Regions from separate parts of the Homo sapiens genome. Here region 2 is linked to region 1. Evidence: fine-mapped expression QTL. A gene starts in region 1. The other region holds a variant in brackets. All regions are shown on one strand. Distances are between the middles of the regions. Region 1 holds the start of CARD9 (caspase recruitment domain family member 9). Region 2 overlaps SNAPC4 (small nuclear RNA activating complex polypeptide 4).

Region 1 (8,000 bases):
CCAAGGCGTCCGCACCACCCTCTCAGTACCTTCGAGGGTGGGCTCTGAGAGTGAGGATGAAGACCTCCTGAGTGAGCTGGAACTTGCAGACAGGGACGGGCAGCCGGGCTGCACGACAGCCACATGCCCCATTCAGGTAGGGTGGGCGCCCAGCCCCACTTCCCCATGGCAGGCGGCGGTCCCTGGGGTGCCCTCGCCTGCCTGGAGCAGTGGGGTGGGGGCTGGTGGAAGTTGCGGGCAGGAAGGCTGGCTGCTGGGTGTCTTAGGAGGAGGAAGCTGGTTCCTGGCCTGCCCAGTTGCGTGTAGATTCTGCAGAAGTGGCCTCCCTTTGGGGCAGTGTGGAAAAGGGGAGAAGAGAGGCCTCATTCTCGTGCAGGAGCCTCCGGCCATCCTGATGCTGCCCAGCCAGGTGGCCTTGTCTGAGCGAGAAGCTCTGGGATGGACGCTGACCCGGCTCTGAGCCGCACACGCCACACACACGTGTGCTCCCAGGGTGGGCCATGGGCACAGTGGAGGGTGGTGGCTGTGTTTGTCTCTGGATTTCTGGGGTCCCAAAGGTCCCTCTCTGCTGTCACCTCTCTGAGTGTCCTTGGGGAGAGTTTTCCAATCTCTGTAGGTGAAACCATGTTTGGAACCCTGGAAAGCATGTGGAGCTGGGGCCCCCAGAGAGGCCTCCTCCCCTGGTGCCAGGGTGCCCACTTGCAGCAGCTGGGAGGCTGGCCTCCCTGAGAAACCACCAGAAGCAGGCAGCCTCAGCTGGACCTGTGGGCCTGTCATAGGGAGTGTGGCAGAGGGCCTTCCATCTCTCCCCAGGGTTGTGTCTCGCAAGTCCCTGGGCTGAAGTGTGGGAGGAAGCAATGTCCAAGAGTTGGGGAGGACCCCGGCCAGCCAGGGGAAGAGGCCCTCTGTGCCCCATCCATGTACAGCCTCCTGCCCTGCCTGGGTGTGATGGCTGTCCCATGGGGGAGTGGGAGGCCCACCAGAGGGATGGCTTGGATGGGGTCAGAGCCCCCGAGGGAGGGAGTGCACAGTCACGTGTGGCCCCAGGAGTGCCTGGAGCAGCTCCCGCCTGAGCTGAGGGTGCCCTGTCCCAAGTGGGACACTCACCCACAGGGCCCCTCCTCACTCCCGTCCCTTCCCCGTCCATCATGGCTCGGGGGTGTCACTCTTGTCCCCACTGCCTGGATTTTCTTTCAGGGAGCCCCAGACTCTGGTAAATGCTCTGCTTCCTCCTGCCTGGATACTTCTAATGACCCTGACGACCTGGACGTGCTCAGAACCCGGCATGCCAGGCACACCCGGAAGCGGAGGCGGCTGGTGTGAGCAGCAGGTGAGTCCTGAGTGGGGAGGCCACTGCCCTACAACCCAGGGGACAGAGTGGTGTCCAGATGGCAGGGGGCCTTGGCCTCTGCTCGGCTCTTTGGCGCTCACAGCAGGTGTGCTGGGTTAGGTGGGCAGGTCCAGGGTCATGGAGGCCCTCCAGGGGGAGAAGCATTTAACCCACATCCTTCCTGCTGGCCACCCATGCCTCGGGCCTTGGCACCACTGTGCCCCTGACCATAGGCTCATTCCCTGCCTTTGGGGTCTGGGCTCCTCCCTGGCCGCTGTGCTCTGGTGGTGCCCTGTTCCCGTGCATTGCTGCGTCGTCTCCCAGCTTGTAAAACGATCACCATCCCCAACCGCAGCCACCAGGCTGGCTCTTCACTGCTGGAGCCCTGGTGCCCTGGCCTGGCCCTTGGCGCATGTGGGTCAGGTTTACCAAGCAGACTGGGCGTGGCCGGCGCTGGGGTGGTCTTGGTTCCTGTTTGTCTGTCCCAGCCCTGCTTGGGGTCTGGCTGGGGTCAAGGGCACCCCCCACCTGGTGTTCCTGTGTTCCAGGACAAGCACTTTCTCAGAAGCCCGTGGCCCTGCTGACGAGAGACAGCCCACCCCCAGCCTGCAAGAGAGGCAGCCAGAGGCCAGGTATCTGCTGGCCGCTGACTGACCAGGTCCGCAGTGAACAGAGGCGGGCCTGCCGACTGACTGTGTGGCATGGAGCATGGCTGTTCCCCAAGTGCACACCTGAACACTTGGAGGAATAAAGTTCTGTTTTTAATTGTGGAGCTGGACACAGGCTGTTGTGGTTTTGTTGTCCTGAGGTACCGGGCAGTGTACAGGGACCCCCCACCTGGCTGGGGTCAGGCTGCTGCCTAGTGGCTGAGCCACCCTAGTGCAGGCAGTTCGGGAACAAGCAGGGTGCTGGGGGCCCAGAGCTGGGGTCCTGGAAGGCCTCCCGTACCCCGGCTGCCCTCCTGTCAGAGAAGCAGGCTTTCTTTCGCCCATTTCCTGGAAAGCATCTGTGGCTTTGTCCTTCAGGCTAGCCGGCACCCTCCCCAGATGGCTGCCAGCCCTCGCGCTGCCCTGGCTGACCCAGGGGGTTCCCTGGAACAGATGACCTGGCTACCCCGACACGGCGGCAGCCCCCACCCTCCACTGTTCCTTTTGCATGGGCCTTTATTGGCATAAGACTAGCCCCCATCTTCTCCGTCTGTCCCCTAGCTCCCTTTCCTTTGTCTCTGTGGCAGCAGCGCCCCCAGGCCCTTGGCTATCTGGGCTTCGATCCTTCACTGGAGCCACTGTGGGGCCTCAGCCCTGGGCACCTGGCAGACGGGACGGTCCCATGGCCGACCTCACTCCTGAGTATGTGTTGCTGTGCCTGGTTCTCTAGTCTGGTGCCTAGTCTGGGGGCCACTCTGATCTGTGGGTTATTTAGCGGTATATTATTTAATTTCCAAATATTTAGAGATTTTGCCGATATCTGTTACCGATTTTTAGCTTCCGATATGGTTAGAGAACATGGTATGTGTGTTCACTCCTAAGGACACACACCACAGGGAAGTCACTAAGGTCCGCGTTTTAAACGCTGGGGAAACACTGGGTCATGAGGGCCTGGTGCCAGCTCCGGTTCGCTCCCTGGCAGGGCCCAGGATGGCCCCGGCCTGCACACTCGCTCATGTTGATGGTGAGGGGTCCAGCAGGGGCACGGCCCCCTGGAATGTGGCATTCCCGAGAGCCCAGGAGGACCCCTAACTGTCCGCTCCTTAATGTGTGATGTCAGACGTTGTCCGCACAGAGGCCTGAGGGCTGGAGGCTGAGAACGGTTAGGCAAGCTCCACACCAGCTTCCTTGCCTTCCAGCCTGGCGGCCCCTTCTCGAACCTGTTGGGTGGCAACTCAGTTCAACCAGCTTTACCGGGTGAGGCGGGGCCTGGGGGTTCCCAAGCCTGCAGGGATGAGGCTCTGGCAGCCCACACGCTGAAGTGCACAGTTCAGGGCAGACTCTGCTGTCCGTTGTCCCTGGATGGGGGCCGAGCTGTGCCCTGCTGTCACCGGCTCTTCTGAAGCTGGTTTGGGGGACCCCGAGAGTGGCCTCAGTCCTCACATGCATCCTGGTGGAGAGCAGGGATGCCTCATGATGGGGATAACGAGGATAACGACACTTCTGGAAGGGACGTTTCTCCCCCGTGTGCAGCTGGGTGGTGGCCGATGCCATGGCCCCTGGCAGGCTGCTGTGGCCTCCTGGGCTCCATAAGGTGGGCTGCAGCCCTTCTGTGACCAAGGCGTGTGCTGGCCATGCCGTGTGGCTGTGTGCCCCCCTGCACATGCCCTGCCCCGCTGTCCTGAGATGCTGGCGAGGGCGAGGGTGTTCGCACAGAGCAAAGCATGCCTTACTGAAGAAGTCTCCAGAAGCCTGTGACCAGGTCAAAGTGGCTGGGTGCGGGCTGGCCTTGTCCAGCCCCCTGGGGGTCTCTGCTGTCTCTTCTACTTGCCAGGTGCCAGGGCTGGGCCTCTGGGGCATCCCCAGGACCCCCAGCCCCCGGCCAGGCTGGGAGGGCTGGGAGCAGCTTTCCTCTGGAGGGCAGCGGACTTCCACTTCCGTCTGCCTCTTGGGGCCTCCTGGGCTGGGCGAATCAGAAAGCAGGTCACCAGGGACTGTCCCCCTGTGGGAGGACTGGCGGGACTGTGGAGTTAAGCAGAACCCATCAGGAAGTGCACAGGCGTCCGGCGTGCTCCTCCCTCCCTGCAGCCCCGGGCAGCATCTCCCAGAGGCTCCGCGGCCCAGGCTCCTGGTGTGTCTGCAGTGCAGGTGGCTCCTGGAAGACCCTCAGGTGGGTGGGTCTGGTGCTTTCTGAAAGGTGGCCAGGAAGGTTGGCGTTGGCCTAGTTCAGGATCCTGGCACTGATCCCCCAGAGCAGCCTGAGGCTTCCCACAGGCAGCCAGGCAGCCTCCGCCATGCGGCCCCGTCCCTTTCACGGCCCCTGGGCGGAGATGTGTTCATTTCAGTGGAATTACGGTGGCAGATGGGACCCTGCATTTCAAGCTGGGGAAGCAGGAAAGGGGCCCAGTGTTCCCAGGACTGTCTACCGTGTGGCCAGTGTTTTTATTCAGTCCCTTGTCTGTCAAAACTGTCCTGAATGGGGTGACAAAGTGCAGCGGGAAGTTGAGAAATGCCTCAAAAGACCAAGCCTGGGGCAACTATGTCTCCAGGAGCAGTGACCCAGCTCCTCTGGGCTGGAAACCAGCGTTTCCCAGCGGGGCTGGAGGCTGTCTGAGGACCACGTGGCTGCTCCCAGCCTTGCCGCAGTCCCAGTCTCAGAGGGAGTGGCTTTCAGCGGCTGAGGCCCCCACCATGCTGGCAGAAAGGGACAGCAGTGGCTGGTCCCAACATGGGTAGTTCTGTTGCAGCCACTGGGATGGGGGCCGGGCCTCATCTGGGGCAGGAGAAGAGTCCAGGGATTCACTGGTGCCCGGCACCTCAACCTGGAGAAAACACCGCAGCAGCACTCCTGGCCAGCCAAGGGCAACACTGACAGCCCCTCCCAGGGTTGCGGGGCCGGCAGGGGGTGACAGAGACACGCTCCTGTGGGCAGCTCTTCCCGGCCAGTGCAGCGACCCCGCAGCTGCAGCAGGGCTGGGTGGCCACTCTTGCATCATCAGCAGCCGGCCGTGGAGGAGGGAGGGCACAGCCAGGGATGTGAGCAGGCGTCGGTCAGGGGAATGAGGAAGTCCCACAAGAACCGGCTCCCCCAGCTGCTGTGCTGGTGGGAGGGCCACTGGCCAACCTGCTCTCACCCAGCTTGGGCTGGCCATAGTGCCAGGCAGTTGCCCTCAGCTCCTCTGCCCATTCCAGCCATGGAGGTGGCTAACCTTGCAGGCTCCAGGGCGTGATGGGAGTGTCCAGGAGGCAGAGGCCAGAGGGGGTCATGCTGTAGGGGGAGTTCCTCTCTCAGACCCCATCTGTGCCTCCCCCGCTGCGTATCTGGGTGACATGGATGCCAACGGGCAGGAGCAAGGGCTGGGAAAGGCTGCGGAGGGGCCCTCGGCTGGTCTGGTGGGGAGCGGGGTCACTGTGTCTCTGCTGCCTCCCTGGGGGATCCAGCGTGGGGATGGGACATGGAGCTGGGCACCTCTCCTGGATGCCCCTGGGCTGATCCCCCTCGATGCCCTGACGAGAGCCCTGGCCCAGCGTCTGAGAAGGAGTGGGAGCTGGGCCCGGGTGGGGGCAGGAGCCGGCATCGCTCTCAGCACTGCCCCACACTCCCCAGCCTGCCTGCTGAGGCCATGTCGGACTACGAGAACGATGACGAGTGCTGGAGCGTCCTGGAGGGCTTCCGGGTGACGCTCACCTCGGTCATCGACCCCTCACGCATCACACCTTACCTGCGGCAGTGCAAGGTCCTGAACCCCGATGATGAGGAGCAGGTGCTCAGCGACCCCAACCTGGTCATCCGCAAACGGAAAGTGGGTCAGTGTTGCCCCGCGGGCCCCAGGCCCCAAACCCAACCACAGAGTCAGCTCGGAGGTGGCTGCACGCTCTGCCACCCTGACCCTCAACCCCAGGAGAGCCCCGCCTGGCTTTGCCCCTGGCCTCTGACTGAGGCCCAACCTCAACCCTGGCACGTGGCCCGTCCCCCAGCCTCTCCTGCCGGCTTGGTGCTGCCAAGAGGGGCAGCGGGGCTCCCACCGCAGCGGGGGCTCCTGAGACAGCCAAGGGGCGGGTGGGCAGCACTTGGTCCCCAGCCTAGTACCAAGACCCGCAGGGTACCTCATCCAAGACCCAGACCACGGCACACCTCATCTGCATGCCAGCCTCCACCTGTCCCTGCCCCCAGGCCCACCCACCCCAGCCCTCTGCCTCGCCTGTGCCCCGCCCCCAGTTAGGCCTCTCTGGCCCGCAGGTGTGCTCCTGGACATCCTGCAGCGGACCGGCCACAAGGGCTACGTGGCCTTCCTCGAGAGCCTGGAGCTCTACTACCCGCAGCTGTACAAGAAGGTCACAGGCAAGGAGCCGGCCCGCGTCTTCTCCATGATCATCGGTGAGTGACGGGGGAGGCGGGGCCGACAGGGGAGGCGCTGGCGGGGAGCGGGCAGTGGTGTTGGGTCCTCTGCCTGGCCCCCATCCCTAGGAGCCCTGAGCTCCTGCCACAGCGCAGGGCGTGATGGAGCTGGGCCACCGGGGAACACGGCACCATCTGACACTGGCCTGGCCCACAGACGCGTCCGGGGAGTCAGGCCTGACTCAGCTGCTGATGACTGAGGTCATGAAGCTGCAGAAGAAGGTGCAGGACCTGACCGCGCTGCTGAGCTCCAAAGATGACTTCATCAAGGAGCTGCGGGTGAAGGACAGCCTGCTGCGCAAGCACCAGGAGCGTGTGCAGAGGCTCAAGGAGGAGTGCGAGGCCGGCAGCCGCGAGCTCAAGCGCTGCAAGGAGGAGAACTACGACCTGGCCATGCGCCTGGCGCACCAGAGTGAGGAGAAGGGCGCCGCGCTCATGCGGAACCGTGACCTGCAGCTGGAGGTGCGCCCGCTGCCCCCGGGAAACCAGGCCACCCTCGCCTGGCCTGGCGGGGTCTGCAGGCCGGGGCGGTCGGGGGTGGCCCCACGGGTCTGCGGTCACCGCCTGGAGGGGACAGCCAGGCTCACTGGACCTTCTGCAGATTGACCAGCTCAAGCACAGCCTCATGAAGGCCGAGGACGACTGCAAGGTGGAGCGCAAGCACACGCTGAAGCTCAGGCACGCCATGGAGCAGCGGCCCAGCCAGGAGCTGCTGTGGGAGCTGCAGCAGGAGAAGGCCCTGCTCCAGGCCCGGGTGCAGGAGCTGGAGGCCTCCGTCCAGGTGGGGCCGTAGGCAGGGCAGGTGCAGCCCAGGCAGGGCAGTGGGGGCCTTCCCAGCCAGGCCATTGCCTTTTGCCCCCTTCAGGAGGGGAAGCTGGACAGGAGCAGCCCCTACATCCAGGTACTGGAGGAGGACTGGCGGCAGGCGCTGCGGGACCACCAGGAGCAGGCCAACACCATCTTCTCCCTGCGCAAGGACCTCCGCCAGGGCGAGGCCCGACGCCTCCGGGTAGGAGGGCAGGCGGGGAGACATGGCCCCTGGGGTCCAAGCCAGGCTGGACGGGCTGAGCTCCGCCCACTCCGTGCCTGGAAGGTGGGGTGTGGAGACCCCAGTGCAGCGCCTCCACTCACCCACTCCTGGAGGCACAGTGGACGGTGCCCTCTCCTTGCCCGCCTGCCCCCCATGGCAAAGGCCAACCTCTGGGCTCATGGTGCCTGAGGCACAGCAGTGTCTGAGGCCTGCCGGAGGGCCCTGTCCTGCCGCGGTCTGGAAGTGCAGGGCTGGTAGGGGCCTGGGGACTCCTATGGCCTCCCCCGACATCCCAACTGGCCTGACCACATGCTTCTGAGCCCCTGCCCGGAGTATACCCCAAGGGCCAGAATGGGGGGCCTCAGGCCTGTGGGGGCTGAGCTGCCGCCCCCTGCAGTGCATGGAGGAGAAGGAGATGTTCGAGCTGCAGTGCCTGGCACTACGTAAGGACTCCAAGATGTACAAGGACCGCATCGAGGCCATCCTGCTGCAGATGGAGGAGGTCGCCATTGAGCGGGACCAGGTGGGCACTCGCAGGGGCAGGACAAAGCACCCCACTCGCGGGTGGGTGCACCAGGGCCACGGCCCTTGAGG
Region 2 (8,000 bases), 20 kb before region 1:
AGCATTGTTTGATCCCAGGAGTTCATGTCCAGCCTGGACAACGCAGCAAGACCCTGTCTCTAAAAATAATAATAATAATAATAAACGATGGCTGGTGCTGCTTGGACCAGACCCAATTTTTTGCCAACACTGGTGTCTTTCTGTACTCCAGCCAGAGAGCTTCTGACAATTCCTCCTTTGCTAGCCCCTGAACCAGCTGGCTGTGTGTGTACACTGGGCTCTAGGCATCCCAGGGTCTGGGCCTGGCCTCCTTGGGCCTGTGCAGGGCTTCTGGAGTGGACCATCCTGGGAGGAGGGGGCAGGCCTGAACCTCACCAGATGGCAGTCTGGACAGTCCATGCCTGGATGGTCAACACAGCTCACACCCCTAGGATCTCTTCTTCTCACATGTGCCCCTCCCCACGTGCTCCCCACCCCAAGTGCTCTCCTCCCCACGTGCTCCCCACCCCACGTGCTCCCCACCCCACGTGCTCCCCTCCCCACGTGCTCCCCTCCCCACGTGCTCCCCTCCCCACGTGCTCCCCACCCCACGTGCTCCCCTCCCCATGTGCTCCCCACCCCATAGGCTCCCCACCCCACAGCCTCTCCTCCCAACATGCTCCCCTCCCCACATGCTCTCCTCCATGCTCCCTTTAGCTTCTGAGCCTACCCCAACCCCACCAGCTGCTGCCCTGACAGGAGACCCCCCCAGCCTTGCTTCCCACCTCTCCCAGACCCAGGGCCTGCCTCTGAGGCAACCTGCTATCTTTCTCCTGTGGTGAGGGCCTCTACATCCGTGCCTCCCATCTGACCGGCTAAGCTCCTGAAGGAGAGGTCCGTTTTCTGCTAAACTTTCCCTGTCTCTCCAGTAAAGATAGCTTGTGCCATCCAGTGAACCCTGTGTAGCTTTGTCCTGTGTGCCTGGAGGTCCCCAGTGTGTGGTCAGAGTTTTCTCTATCTGGCTAACCCGGCCTTGGTCCAGTGCCCACCCCGCTGTCAGGGAGGGAAGGTCCGCTCACCGCCAGCCTCAGCCTGAGGCGCTGTCACTACCTCACAACCCCAGGTCTGCCCAAGAAGCAGTGGTGAGCTGCGCCCCCACCCTGCCCAAGACGCTGGTTACCAACACGGTGTTGCTTGTGTTTCTGACAGATTCACTGCCTTCTGAGGACTTGGATCCTGCCGATCCCCCGATCTCGGTAACTGTTGGCCTGATCTGGCTGTGCCACTGGGTCAGGCCTGCCACCACCTTCCAAAGTAGCCTGGGAGGGGGCGTGGTTTGAACCCATATTGGTTTTTCTGCATTATAAAAATGATTCACGTTTGTTATAAAAAAATTAAAAAGCATTTGTCATTGAAATTGTCCCCAGAAATAACCACTGTTAACAGCTTGGTGATCACACCCCTTGGGTTTTTTCTGAGCTCATTGCTGTATGCCTCTGTCTCCTGTGTGGCATCTGTCACTTGCGGAAAGCTGTGAGTTGTGCACCTGCGTCCTGCCCCTCACAGCTCGCCTCTCTGTGCCTCAGATTCCTGTGGGGCAGCGGGGACGTTTACAGCACAAGTCAGTTAACACGAGCAGCTATACAGAAATTAGCTGGTGCAGTGGCACGTGGCTGTGGACGCAGCTACTTGGGTGGCTGAGGCAGGAGGATCACTTGAGCCCAGGAGGCCGAGGCTCCAGTGAGCTGTGATTGCACCACTGCACTCCAGCCTGGGTGATGGAGTGAGACCCTGTCTCAAAAAAAAGAAAAATACACAAGCACCCAAACAGCACCTGGCAACTGCTCTGTGAGGCCAGTGATTATTTTATTAGCTGCCTTTTGTTTACTTTGGAAAACGTTGGCGATTTGCTGCTTCCTTTTTCTGCAAAGTTAGTGGGTACTGAGTTTCCTCATGTTTGCGTGGCTGTGTGGTTCACCTTCTGTGAGTGAGCACCCTGCTGTAGCCTGTGGGCACCTCACCTCCCAGTGGGCATTTTCACTGCGTCCACTTCCTGGCTCTGCAGAGACTTTCCTCCCACACAGGCTTGCTCCCCGTGCTTTGCTGGTGATGCACACGACAGGGGCTCAGGACAGAGTTCAGGGTTCACAGGACGCCTGTGGTCCTGGAAAGCTGCCTGCTGCCTTGCAGCAGCCGCAGCCCTGGCGTGTTCCAGGTTGGAGGCTCTGCCTGCCGTGGATTAGGAAAGGCGCACACAGGCCGCCTTGAGAGTGACAGGCTCCACTCCCAAACTCAGACGCCCTCCCGCTGCCCACCAGGGTCACTTCCTGCTTCCACATTGGGTGTTGCTATGCCAGAGCTGCCTCGGTGTCCCAGAGGCCCAGCGATGGGCGACTGGCTGCCGAGGACAGGGGAGCATCCACGTCTCATCTCGTCACATGCCATTTCTGGCTCGTTACCAGGAAGAAGAAAGGTGGGGCGAAGCCAGCAATGACGAGGACGATCCCAAGGATAAAACCCTCCCTGAAGACCCAGAAACCTGCCTGCAGCTGAACATGGTCTACCAGGAGGTCATCCAGGAGAAGCTGGCTGAGGCCAACCTGCTGCTGGCCCAGAACCGGGAGCAGCAGGTGGGATGGGCCTCGGCCCCCCGGTGCCCACACCTCCCCACCCCCAGAGCCCCCCACAGCTGGGCCTCCCAGGTCCAGGGCTCCCCAGCTCCCTGCCTCTCCTCTGCCCCGGGTCTCCTCCGCAGGGAGAGTCATTGCTGCTGGTCCATAGAGGGGTCCCTGCCTTGTGTCTGTCACAGGAGGAACTCATGAGGGATCTGGCTGGGTCCAAAGGCACCAAGGTGAAAGATGGCAAAAGCCTGCCCCCAAGCACATACATGGGGCACTTCATGAAGCCGTATTTCAAGGACAAGGTCACGGGCGTGGTGAGTGGCCGAGGCCCTGCTCTTGTCGGCAAGGCTCTGCACCGTGGGAAGGGTTCTTGTCCCCAAGTCCTGCTGCAGGGAGTCGTGAATTCCTGTGAGTTCAAGATAACATTGGCCAACCTCCTTCAAACTGCCTCCTCCGTGGTGGGCAAGCTGCCCTCTGCTCTGCGCTGGGCTGCCAGGACTGCCCTGTGAAGCGATGAGCAAGCCCTCGTGGAGGTGCCAGTGTTGTCTGTGCGAGGCCTGACCTCATCAGGCTTCATGGAGTGGCCGGCAGGGTTGCACCCCCACAGCCTCACAGTACGGGAGAACAGGAGGCAGGGGGAGCCCGAGTCCTTTTGTGGGCTCTGGAGGGATGTGCTGGGCCTGCAGGGAGCACATGTGGCCTGTGCTTGTGGTGATGCCGTGCACCCTGACAGGGGCCACCTGCCAACGAGGACACACGAGAGAAGGCTGCCCAGGGGATCAAGGCTTTCGAGGAGCTCCTTGTGACCAAATGTAAGAGCCCTGGCCGGCCCTGCGGCACCCCTGAGCTTGGGACACCTCCCCATGGCCCTCCTTTCCCCAGTTTCTCCCCAAGTTCTCAGACCTCTCTCTGTTGTGACCTCATGGCTCCTTCAGGCCTTGACCACTGGGACTGGCCCCTTGACTCCTGCCTTTCCACACTGAGCAGGTCCTTTCCAGAACACCAGTCACGAGGGGCTAGCCAGGCCGCACCCCACCCTCTGGCTCAGTCTCCCCGCCCTTGTCTTGGGCCGCAAAGCCCTGTGGCTTTACGTGTGAGCTGGCGCCAGGCCTCGGGTGGAGCTCTGTCAGCTGGGTGGAGGGGCCACGTCAGTAGGTCTGGCGTGCTGCTTACTCGCTGTGGGGCCCCCCACCACTGCCTCGGGAAGTGCACACCAACCGTGGGGGCTGGGCCGTGGAGAGGATCCAGACCCCCAGTGATGATGCTGTGGCTTCTCCTCAGGGAAAAACTGGGAAAAGGCCTTGCTCCGAAAGTCAGTGGTGAGTGACCGCCTGCAGCGATTGCTTCAGCCCAAGTTACTGAAGTAAGTCTAAAACCATAAGTCAAAAACGGTCTTCAGGCTGGGCATAGGGCTCATGCCTGGAATCCCAGCACTTTGGGAGGCCAAGGCAGGAGGATCTCTTGAACCCAGTTCAAGCCCAGCCTGGGCAACATGGTGAGACCCCATCTCTTCAAAAAGTAAAAAAATTAGCTGGGTGTGGTGGTGCACACCTGTGGTCCCAGCTACTCGGGAGGCTGAGGTGGGAGGATCGATTGATCCCAGGAGGTCAAAGCTGCAGTGAGCCATGATTGTACCACTGCGTTCCAG[C/T]CTGGGTGACAGAGCGAGACCCTGTCTCAAAAACAAACACAACAGCCTTTCCTGGCCAACAGGAAAAGCCAAGGCTGGTTGGTTTGGGCTTGGCAGAGGTTCAGCTTAGCTGTATGCCCGTTCTCTGCAGCGGGTCTTGCCAGGCCATGGAGAGATGCTCATGCCTGGACTTTATGCCCCTTCCCCATGAAGGGGGCTTCCCCATGGCCGGGCGGGCGGCTAAGCGCAGGATCAGTCCACACAGCCACGATGAGGGGTGTGGCTCGGGGCGCGGGGTCGGTCCACACGGCCACGATGAGAGGTGTGGCTCGGGGCATGGGGTCGGTCCACACGGCCATGATGAGGGGTGTGGTTCAGGCAGCTTCTCTGGGCTTCCCTTTCCCATTCCTGAAACCTGCTGTTTGCTGATGGGGTGATAATCACGTGACCAAAGAAGGCACAGCACAGCCTTACTGTCCGCACTTGATAGAAGGCGCTGCTGTCCTGATGACTTTGGTCAAAGACAGAGCTGCTCCCAGAGCCCAGAGACCCAGCAGCACCTGGTTGGCCACTCAACAGCACAGCAGGTCCCCATCTGTCTTCTGTGGGGCCACCATGAGCTCTCAAGGCAGAGGGGGTGCCTTTAGAATACAAGCTGCCAGGGCATCTCTGGGCACTGAGAGGGCTTTGGCCATGCCAGGGGTCCCGGGTCCCGCCTGCCCCCCGTGGCCTGATGTGCATGGTCAGGGTTTGCAGTGATGACGGTGGGTCTCTCCTCAGGCTCGGGGAGAGCTGGGTTTTCCTCCCTGGCCTGCTCTGGGGAGTGGTTCTTTACTGTGGCCTCACAGCCTCTGGCCTCCTCACTGGGCACCAGTCAGGATATCTGCCTACGGCTGTGTCTCTGTGCCAGGCACAGGCTGGGAGCTGGGGCACTGAGGCTCCGGAGGGCTGTGGCGAGGCTCTGAGACACGGGGGCCAGCAGGCGGTAGCCTCTGTGTCAGCAGACACTGCAGCCCTTCCCACCCCGGTGGCAGCCTGGAGGTGGGTGCTACAGCTTCCCTCATGGGTGAGGAGGCCGAGGCAGGGAGGGTGAGGGAGGCTCGGAATCTCTGCTGAGCTCACACTCCTTGCCCTGTAATGTGCAGAGAACCTGCCCCGCCCCGCAGCCCTCGTGCCCCAGCCCTTCTGCCTCTGCTCTGCTTTGCAGGCTCGAGTACTTGCACCAGAAGCAGAGCAAAGTCTCCAGTGAGCTGGAGAGGCAAGCCCTGGAGAAGCAGGGCAGGGAAGCCGAGAAGGAGATCCAGGACATCAAGTGAGGGGGGCCTCCCGGGAGGGCCCAGGGGAGCCCACAAGCCAGGCGTGGTGCCAATACCCTCATCCCTTCCACCAGCCAGCTTCCAGAAGAGGCCTTGCTGGGAAACAGGCTGGACAGCCACGACTGGGAGAAGATTTCCAATATTAACGTAAGTCAGGGGCAGGTCTGAGCCCCAAGCAGCTTGGAGCACAGCTCCCTGTAGCCCGGGTGCAGTTGGAATTGGGTGGTAAGGCCACACCCTCCCTGGCAACAGGTTCTGCTGTGACCCCCCACCCACCCGGGTCAAGCACATGTCCCACAGTCGGGAATGGCGAGTGGACTCACGAGGGCCTTCAGGCTGGTGCACGGCCCTTTCTGAGATGGTCTGGAGGGCTCCCGGCCTTGCATCTGGAGCCAAGTCTACATGTTTGGCTATGCAAGGCCTAGTGAGTTGGACGAAGATTGCGCTTACTTGCAGCCGTGGAAGCCTCCAGCTGGCGGAGAGCAACAGCTCAGCCTGGAGCTGCGTCTAGGGTGCCCCTGGGGTCAGTGGCCTGCAAGGCTGAGTGTCTCTGTCGGTGCAGTTTGAAGGCAGCCGCAGTGCAGAGGAGATCCGGAAGTTCTGGCAGAACTCGGAGCACCCCAGCATCAACAAGCAGGAGTGGAGCAGGGAGGAGGAGGAGCGGCTGCAGGCGATCGCGGCTGCACACGGCCACCTGGAGTGGCAGAAGATTGCAGAGGAGCTGGGGGTAAGGGCCTGGCCTGGACCCCAGGGGCCAGGAGACCTGAGGGCGTGTGGGCCCTATAGCGGGAGGCTGCTGGACGGGTGCGGGGTCCCCAGTGCTCACTCACCGCCAGGTTTCTATGTGTTGCCACCTCCAGGCTGTGGCCCTAGGGAAGGAGCCTGCCCAGCCCTCTCTGCCACTAGGCCATTGCCGCAGCTCCTCTGGGCCTTCCCAGTCCTCCAGGTCTCCCCATGCAGCGGTGCATGCCCAGTTTACCGGAGTTTGTCTCCTTTCTTATTTCTAGTCTTCTTCTGTCTCCATCAGCCTCGGGAGTTTATTCTGTTGATGTTTCTAAAGCGCTTTTTCCTCGTGTGAGTTCTTGCCGCTTTTCTGGTTTCCTGAGTAAGGACTCAGTTCTTTACTGACTTGGGTCTCTTGTCTTGATAACGAGGCTTGTTAGGCCACCCTGAGAGTAGCTTGGCGTGAACTCTTCTTCTCATAGATTTCCAAAGTAGCTCTAGTTTCCATTTTTATTGCCTCTTTGGACCTAGGTGTATCTAGGAGTGTATGTTTCCGTTTTTAAATAGTTGGATTTCTGGGAGTTCTTGTGGTGGTTCTTTATCTGAATTTGATTGGAACATGAACTAGGGGCGAGATGTATAAAATCTCCATTTTTCAAATATATTTTACTTTTTTATGGCAGAGCACCTGATTATAGCAGACCCAGCTAAACTTGCCAAAACTGTTTTTAAGAAAAAGGTATGTTCTCTGTAAGTAGGGCCTACTCTATATCAGCTATTAAATTGAGTTTGCCTTTAAAGATGCTTAATTCTGCCGGGCACAGTGGCTCACCCCTGTAATCCCAGCACTTTGGGAGGCCGAGGCTGGCGGATCACCTGAGGTCGGGAGTTCAAGACCAGCCTGGCCAACATGGAGAAACCCCGTCTCTACTAAAAATACAAAATTAGCCGGGCGTGGTGGCGGGCATCTGTAGTCCCAGCTACTCGGGAGGCTGAGGCAGGAGAATGGCGTGAACCCGGGAGGCGGAGCTTGCGGTGAGCGGACGTCGCGCCACTGCACTCCAGCCTGGGCGACAGCAAGACTCCGTCTCAAAAAAAAAAAAAATAAATAAATAAATACAAATCGGTTTTTCTTCTATGTATATTTTACTGCTACATAGTTTGGTACACATAACTTTTTTTAATCGGGGTCTGCTTTCTTTTTTTCTTTTTTGTTTTTCATATTTTTTGAGTTCAGGGCTGTGTGTGCAGGATGTGCAGTTTGGTTCCGTAGGTGAGCGTGTGCCATGGTGGTTTGTTGCATAGATCAGCCCATCACCCAGGGATTCAGCCCAGCTTGCGTTAGCTCATTAGCTCTTTTTCTTTCCTTTTTTTTTTTTTTTTTTTTTTTTCAAACAGAGTCTCACTCTGTCGCCCAGGCTGGAGTGCAGTGGCACGATCTCAGCTCACCGCAAGCTCCGCCTCCCGGGTTCACGCCATTCTCCTGCCTCAGCCTCCCGAGTAGCTGGGACTACAGGCGCCCACCACCACGCCCGGCTAATTTTTTGTATTTTTAGTAGAGACGGGGTTTCACTGTGTTAGCCAGGATGGTCTCAGTCTCCTGACGTTGTGATCTGCCGGCCTCAGCCTCCCAAAGTGCTGGGATTACAGACGTGAGCCACCGCGCCCGGCCCATCCCTGTATTTTCAGCCTTTTAACAAATCGTCATTTCCAAGTGTTTTCATGAAAGCAGCGTGCAGCTGGGTTTTGCTTTCCCACCCGCCTGACCAGCCTCTGGCTTTGTGGGAGGGTGGG

What was found. PIP is the estimated chance that this variant, and not a neighbour inherited with it, causes the effect.
Region 2: its variant is fine-mapped to the expression of CARD9 in whole blood (TOPMed, PIP 0.93).

What each region holds. Positions count from the first base shown.
Region 1 is chr9:136,369,679-136,377,678 of GRCh38, reverse strand. CARD9 (caspase recruitment domain family member 9) reads left to right here and starts at 4,010. Exons shown (of 13, transcript NM_052813.5): 1 at 4,010-4,147; 2 at 5,585-5,784; 3 at 6,218-6,355; 4 at 6,534-6,838; 5 at 6,978-7,157; 6 at 7,242-7,385; 7 at 7,804-7,929. The coding sequence starts at 5,601. It overlaps SNAPC4 (small nuclear RNA activating complex polypeptide 4), which reads left to right. Exons shown (of 24, transcript NM_003086.4): 22 at 1-136; 23 at 1,198-1,330; 24 at 1,879-2,108. The coding sequence ends at 1,323. RefSeq lists enhancers at 3,115-3,828, 3,848-4,142.
Region 2 is chr9:136,390,152-136,398,151 of GRCh38, reverse strand. It overlaps SNAPC4 (small nuclear RNA activating complex polypeptide 4), which reads left to right. Exons shown (of 24, transcript NM_003086.4): 3 at 1,129-1,175; 4 at 2,382-2,549; 5 at 2,729-2,854; 6 at 3,274-3,352; 7 at 3,822-3,903; 8 at 5,375-5,479; 9 at 5,558-5,630; 10 at 6,046-6,210. Among named protein-coding and RNA genes, the nearest start is that of SNAPC4, 6.0 kb to the left of the region's middle. RefSeq lists an enhancer at 1-698. The variant C/T (reference allele first, on the strand shown) is at 4,189.